Homo sapiens: one gene and its partner. The protein of the gene in region 1 interacts with the protein of each later gene in a pairwise test. Each region holds a gene or a part of one and is shown on either strand. Other genes may lie near its edges.

What was found.
Region 2: the proteins of CDIP1 (region 1) and CCR2 interact in a two-hybrid assay, tested with the Homo sapiens proteins (one large-scale study listed by BioGRID and IntAct).

Annotation. Positions count from the first base shown.
Region 1 is NC_000016.10:4,528,546-4,532,370, reverse strand, and holds part of CDIP1 (cell death-inducing p53-target protein 1), read left to right. Parts: intron 1-3,825. UniProt on the Homo sapiens protein: Acts as an important p53/TP53-apoptotic effector. Regulates TNF-alpha-mediated apoptosis in a p53/TP53-dependent manner.
Region 2 is NC_000003.12:46,357,099-46,359,588, forward strand, and holds part of CCR2 (C-C chemokine receptor type 2), read left to right. Parts: intron 1-378; 5' UTR 379-429; coding exon 430-1,512; 3' UTR 1,513-2,490. UniProt on the Homo sapiens protein: Key functional receptor for CCL2 but can also bind CCL7, and CCL12. Also transduces signaling mediated by CCL13.

The DNA of each region.
Region 1 (3,825 bases):
ATTTCTGTATTTTATGCCCTCTACTCAGCCCCCCACTGAAGCTGCCTGCCATTAAGACAGACGTTGATCTGCCATCTTCAGTGCCTAGGAAATGCCTCACGCATAGTGTGTGGTCCATACTTATTGGTTGAATAAAATGATACACCATGCCTGCATTTCAGCCGTCTCATCTTCCTAAGAGCCAAGACGCAGGGACCGTGGTCTTCATGTGCTCCGTCATTGCCTGAGTGTTGGGGGTGCTGATTTGCATGCTGTGTTGAATTCTTCAGTACACATTCAGTGGGTTAGGTTCTAAAGTCAACTAGCAGAGCAAAGACCTCATAAGTCAAACTGTCCTCTAAAGTCCTTGAATTGCCTATTAGCTCAGAGGCACTCCCCCTGCTAGAGGCCCAGCGGGGCCTGAGGAAACAGCACGTTCTGTGTCCCATTTCCCTCCCCAGGGAAAGCAGGGGACCGGGCACTGCCACTTCAGCTTTTTGTCCTGGGTACCATGAAATCTATGTAAATGGAACGCATGTGAAGGAACTGCACTGTGTGAGCTACACTGTGTGAAGCACTTTATTGGGAGTGTGAGATCCCACTCAAGTGTATTTTGAAAACCATTTCTGGAGAATGTGTGAGAAAAGAAACAGGGCTGACAGTGATGTGGAAGGAGAGAGTCAGGACAGCTGAGGTCCTGTCTTGGCTCTGTCATCTCCAGGCAGCTGGGGTGCCCGGGGCAGCCACTTCTCTCCTCGGAGACTGCTCCCCACTCTGTGCCACTGCTTGCTCGCCCACCGTCATCTCCAGCACTTCACAGGGCACCTGTCTTCCATGGGTGCTTAGTAAACATTTAAGACAGAAATGAATGGCAGCTTAGACTTGGACCCAGTCATCTCTGATGGCCTTGCAACCTCCAAAAGGTGTTCTCTGGCCAGGAGCAGACACTCACACCTATAATCTTAGCACTTTGGGAGGCTGAGGCAGAAGGATCACTTGAGGTCAGGAGTTTGAGACCATGGCAAACATGGCGAAACCCCGTCTCTAAAAATACAAAAAAAAAAGGCCGGGCACAGTGCCTCACACCTGTAATCCCAGCACTTTGGGAGGCCGAGGTAGGCGGATCACGAGGTCGGGAGATCGAGACCATCCTGGCTAACACGGTGAAACCCCATCTGTACTAAAAATACAAAAAACTAGCTGGGTGTGGTGGCAGGCGCCTGTAGTCCCAGCTACTTGGGAGGCTGAGGCATGAGAATTGCGTGAACCTGGGAGGTGGAGGTTGCAATGAGCCGAGATCACGCCACTGCACTCCAGCCTGGTCTCTGATGTCTGAGTCATAGAGAAATATATACATGGCCAAGCAGATGGCAGTCCCAATCATGACGTGAGCTCCTGTTTTCCCAAGCTTCCAGAATAAGTCTTCTGTCCCAGCCAGCATGAGTGAACTCAGGGCCAGATGTTGACTTAGAGTTACAGGAACTTAGGCAAAAACTGCAATTACTTTTGTACCAACCTAATAAACTTCTATATACTATTTCTTTCTTTTTTTTTGAGGCAGAGTCTTGCTTTGTTGCCCAGGTGGAGTTCAGTGGCGCACTCAGTTCACTGCAGCTTTGAACTCCTGGTCTCAAGTGATCCTCCTGCCTTGACTTCCCAAAGTGCTGAGATTACAGTCCTGAGCCACAGTGCCTGGCCTACTGTATACTATTTCTGTTTTTTTTGTTTTTGTTTTTTTTTTTTGAGATGGAGTCTCACTCTGTCGCCCAGGCTGGAGTGTACTGGCGCAATCTCGGCTCACTGCAAGCTCCACCTCGTGGGTTCAAGTGATTCTCCTGCCTCAGCCTCCCGAGTAGCTGGGATTACAGGCATGTGCCACCACGCCCGGCTAATTTTGTATTTCTAGTAGAGATGGGGTTTCTCCATGTTGGTCGGGCTGGTTTCGAACTCCCGACCTCAAGTGATCCGACTGCCTCAGCCTCCCAAAGTGCTGGGATTACAGGCGTGAGCCACTGCACCCAGTCTATATACTGTTTCATATAATGCAGTGTAAACTACTAATTCAGTTTGTTTCACACCCAACCAATGTAAGTGAATTCTTAGGGTCAGATGCCAACTAAGAGTGATAGAAACTCAGTTAACTAATTTCCATATGCTATATACTGTTGCATCTAATGTAGTGTAAAATACAAATTAGATTCCCACTCTCAGTTCCTAGAGCGCTTTCTTCACCCATCAGAAATGTCTTCAAAATAATTGAAAGAATGCCCTGTAACATGAGAGATCTAAATGTCGCAGGGATGAGCCACTGTCCTCACTGTTCTGAGGGAAAATTGCTGGAGGGGGAGCTTCTGTGTACAGGTATGTATGGTGACTGACACATTTGGAGGAAGAAAGCCTAGAGGTTTGCTTTTCCACATCCCACCCCGACCCACGGAATAGGGGGACTCAGGCAAGACCTGGCCGCGGGCAGAGCCCAGCTCCCTGGCTAAGGACGGCCAGGAGACATTTGTGTCTGAATTAAGACTCTTCCACCTGGGTGGCCGTGAGTGGCCACGTGTCTTGACTGCACTTAACGGCCTGGTGCTTTTTTGTAGGTTGCAGTGGTGTGTCTTGATCTCATCCAACAGACAGCTGGTTGAATAGAGTCAACCCAAGACTGTCCATTTTGTGTCTGCTCAGTACAGGCAGACAGAAGGATTTTTTTTAAGGGCTCCATTTTGAGCACTTAAATGATGGTTCTTTAGGTTCATGCTGTTTCTAAAATTAGTCAGCCTTGTAGTTACCAAGGCCTGCCTGTGGGACAGGTGCAGATGACTTGTTTATTCACTTGTGGTTGAGCTGTGTCTGATTTTTTCCTTTTGCTCTGCATTTCCCCTCCTGTCTGTGCTTCCTTCATTTTCTCTGCTAGCAGGAGAGCATGCAGGAACAAGCTCTTGAGCAGCGTTCTGCCTGGGAGGTAGTTCAGAGTCCTGGCGAGATCACTGGGCGAGTTGGGAGGCCGGGGCTGTGTCCTCAGCATGGGCTCTATCACTCGTTTTTATTATGCATCCAACGGGGACTTTCTTACCAGCCCTCTTTGGTCAGGTGACCTCCTGCTGGGTCTCCTGGCGGGGTCTCCTAGGCTAGCAGGACTGTGAGGTCATTACATTCCAACTTTACAGATCTAAACTTTCCATTTGCCTGGAGTACCGGGAGGTGATCTGGCAGAACTGACTCATTTGACCAAACTCATGGGAGACCTATGGCCATAAGGGGCTGGCTTTGGAGAGGAGGCCACTAACCAGTCCAGGCCTCTGGCTTGCTCTGCAGAGCATTTTCTCCTGTAGGTGAAATTAGATTATAGTCTGAGGTGTGTTTCTGGATTGAGGAGTATGAGGAGTAGTATATATATATTTTTTTGAGATGGAGTTTCGCTCTTGTTGCCCGGCCTGGAGTACAATGATGCGACCTCAGCTTACTGCAACCTCTGCCTCCTGGGTTCAAGTAATTCTTTTGCCTCAGCCTCCCAAGTAGCTGGAATTACAGGCATGCGCCACCACGCCTGGCTAATTTTTGTATTTTTAGTAGAGATGGGGTTTCACCATGTTGGCCAGGCTGGTCTCGAACTCCTGACCTCAGGTGATCTGCGTGCCTCAGCCTCCCAAAGTGCTGGGATTATAGGTGTGAGCCACCGCGGCCAGCCTTTTTTTTTTTTTTTTTTTTTTTGAGACAGGGTTCTTCCCCACTGTTGTCCATGCTAGAGTGCAGCGGTGCAATCATGGCTTACTGCAGCCTCCACCTCCTGGGTTGAGTGTTCCTCCCTCTTCAGCCCCCCAAGTAACTGGGATTATAGGCGTGAGCCAC
Region 2 (2,490 bases), on another chromosome or scaffold:
TTATCAGGGAAGAAGAGCTTTCTCAGAAGCCCCCAGCAGACTCCCTTTTCATATTATGGTCCAGCAATGAGTCACAGACCTATGCACCACCTGCAAAGGAGCCAGAGAAAACAAACGCCCAGCGCTTTTAGCCTGAAAATGAGAATCTGGTTTGCTGGGGAAGATAAAGGGTGTCGGAAAATGGCTGTTGGGTAAATCATTGATGTCTGCCACTAGGAATGAAAGGCAAATCAGGAACTGGCACACATGCTTTCAGGGAGATGGCTGCAAGGGAGAGGGCAAAGACTGGGAAGTTGCTTATGTGGTGCCAGACTATTTGGAAGATCATGGATTGCGGTGTTTGTGTTGTGTGGTCATCATTTTGTTCTTTGTTTACAGAACAGAGAAAGTGGATTGAACAAGGACGCATTTCCCCAGTACATCCACAACATGCTGTCCACATCTCGTTCTCGGTTTATCAGAAATACCAACGAGAGCGGTGAAGAAGTCACCACCTTTTTTGATTATGATTACGGTGCTCCCTGTCATAAATTTGACGTGAAGCAAATTGGGGCCCAACTCCTGCCTCCGCTCTACTCGCTGGTGTTCATCTTTGGTTTTGTGGGCAACATGCTGGTCGTCCTCATCTTAATAAACTGCAAAAAGCTGAAGTGCTTGACTGACATTTACCTGCTCAACCTGGCCATCTCTGATCTGCTTTTTCTTATTACTCTCCCATTGTGGGCTCACTCTGCTGCAAATGAGTGGGTCTTTGGGAATGCAATGTGCAAATTATTCACAGGGCTGTATCACATCGGTTATTTTGGCGGAATCTTCTTCATCATCCTCCTGACAATCGATAGATACCTGGCTATTGTCCATGCTGTGTTTGCTTTAAAAGCCAGGACGGTCACCTTTGGGGTGGTGACAAGTGTGATCACCTGGTTGGTGGCTGTGTTTGCTTCTGTCCCAGGAATCATCTTTACTAAATGCCAGAAAGAAGATTCTGTTTATGTCTGTGGCCCTTATTTTCCACGAGGATGGAATAATTTCCACACAATAATGAGGAACATTTTGGGGCTGGTCCTGCCGCTGCTCATCATGGTCATCTGCTACTCGGGAATCCTGAAAACCCTGCTTCGGTGTCGAAACGAGAAGAAGAGGCATAGGGCAGTGAGAGTCATCTTCACCATCATGATTGTTTACTTTCTCTTCTGGACTCCCTATAATATTGTCATTCTCCTGAACACCTTCCAGGAATTCTTCGGCCTGAGTAACTGTGAAAGCACCAGTCAACTGGACCAAGCCACGCAGGTGACAGAGACTCTTGGGATGACTCACTGCTGCATCAATCCCATCATCTATGCCTTCGTTGGGGAGAAGTTCAGAAGGTATCTCTCGGTGTTCTTCCGAAAGCACATCACCAAGCGCTTCTGCAAACAATGTCCAGTTTTCTACAGGGAGACAGTGGATGGAGTGACTTCAACAAACACGCCTTCCACTGGGGAGCAGGAAGTCTCGGCTGGTTTATAAAACGAGGAGCAGTTTGATTGTTGTTTATAAAGGGAGATAACAATCTGTATATAACAACAAACTTCAAGGGTTTGTTGAACAATAGAAACCTGTAAAGCAGGTGCCCAGGAACCTCAGGGCTGTGTGTACTAATACAGACTATGTCACCCAATGCATATCCAACATGTGCTCAGGGAATAATCCAGAAAAACTGTGGGTAGAGACTTTGACTCTCCAGAAAGCTCATCTCAGCTCCTGAAAAATGCCTCATTACCTTGTGCTAATCCTCTTTTTCTAGTCTTCATAATTTCTTCACTCAATCTCTGATTCTGTCAATGTCTTGAAATCAAGGGCCAGCTGGAGGTGAAGAAGAGAATGTGACAGGCACAGATGAATGGGAGTGAGGGATAGTGGGGTCAGGGCTGAGAGGAGAAGGAGGGAGACATGAGCATGGCTGAGCCTGGACAAAGACAAAGGTGAGCAAAGGGCTCACGCATTCAGCCAGGAGATGATACTGGTCCTTAGCCCCATCTGCCACGTGTATTTAACCTTGAAGGGTTCACCAGGTCAGGGAGAGTTTGGGAACTGCAATAACCTGGGAGTTTTGGTGGAGTCCGATGATTCTCTTTTGCATAAGTGCATGACATATTTTTGCTTTATTACAGTTTATCTATGGCACCCATGCACCTTACATTTGAAATCTATGAAATATCATGCTCCATTGTTCAGATGCTTCTTAGGCCACATCCCCCTGTCTAAAAATTCAGAAAATTTTTGTTTATAAAAGATGCATTATCTATGATATGCTAATATATGTATATGCAATATATATAGGCTCTTGCTTGATCTCTCCAGGAGGTAGTGATTATGAGAAGGGGGTGGAGAATGATGAGTTCCTTCACCAGGAGCAAAGGACGGGGATCGTGTGGAACCACTGCAGAACTATTTCCGAAATCAACTAAGTGGAGAGAGCCAGGAAGGCTGCATCAGAACCCAGTA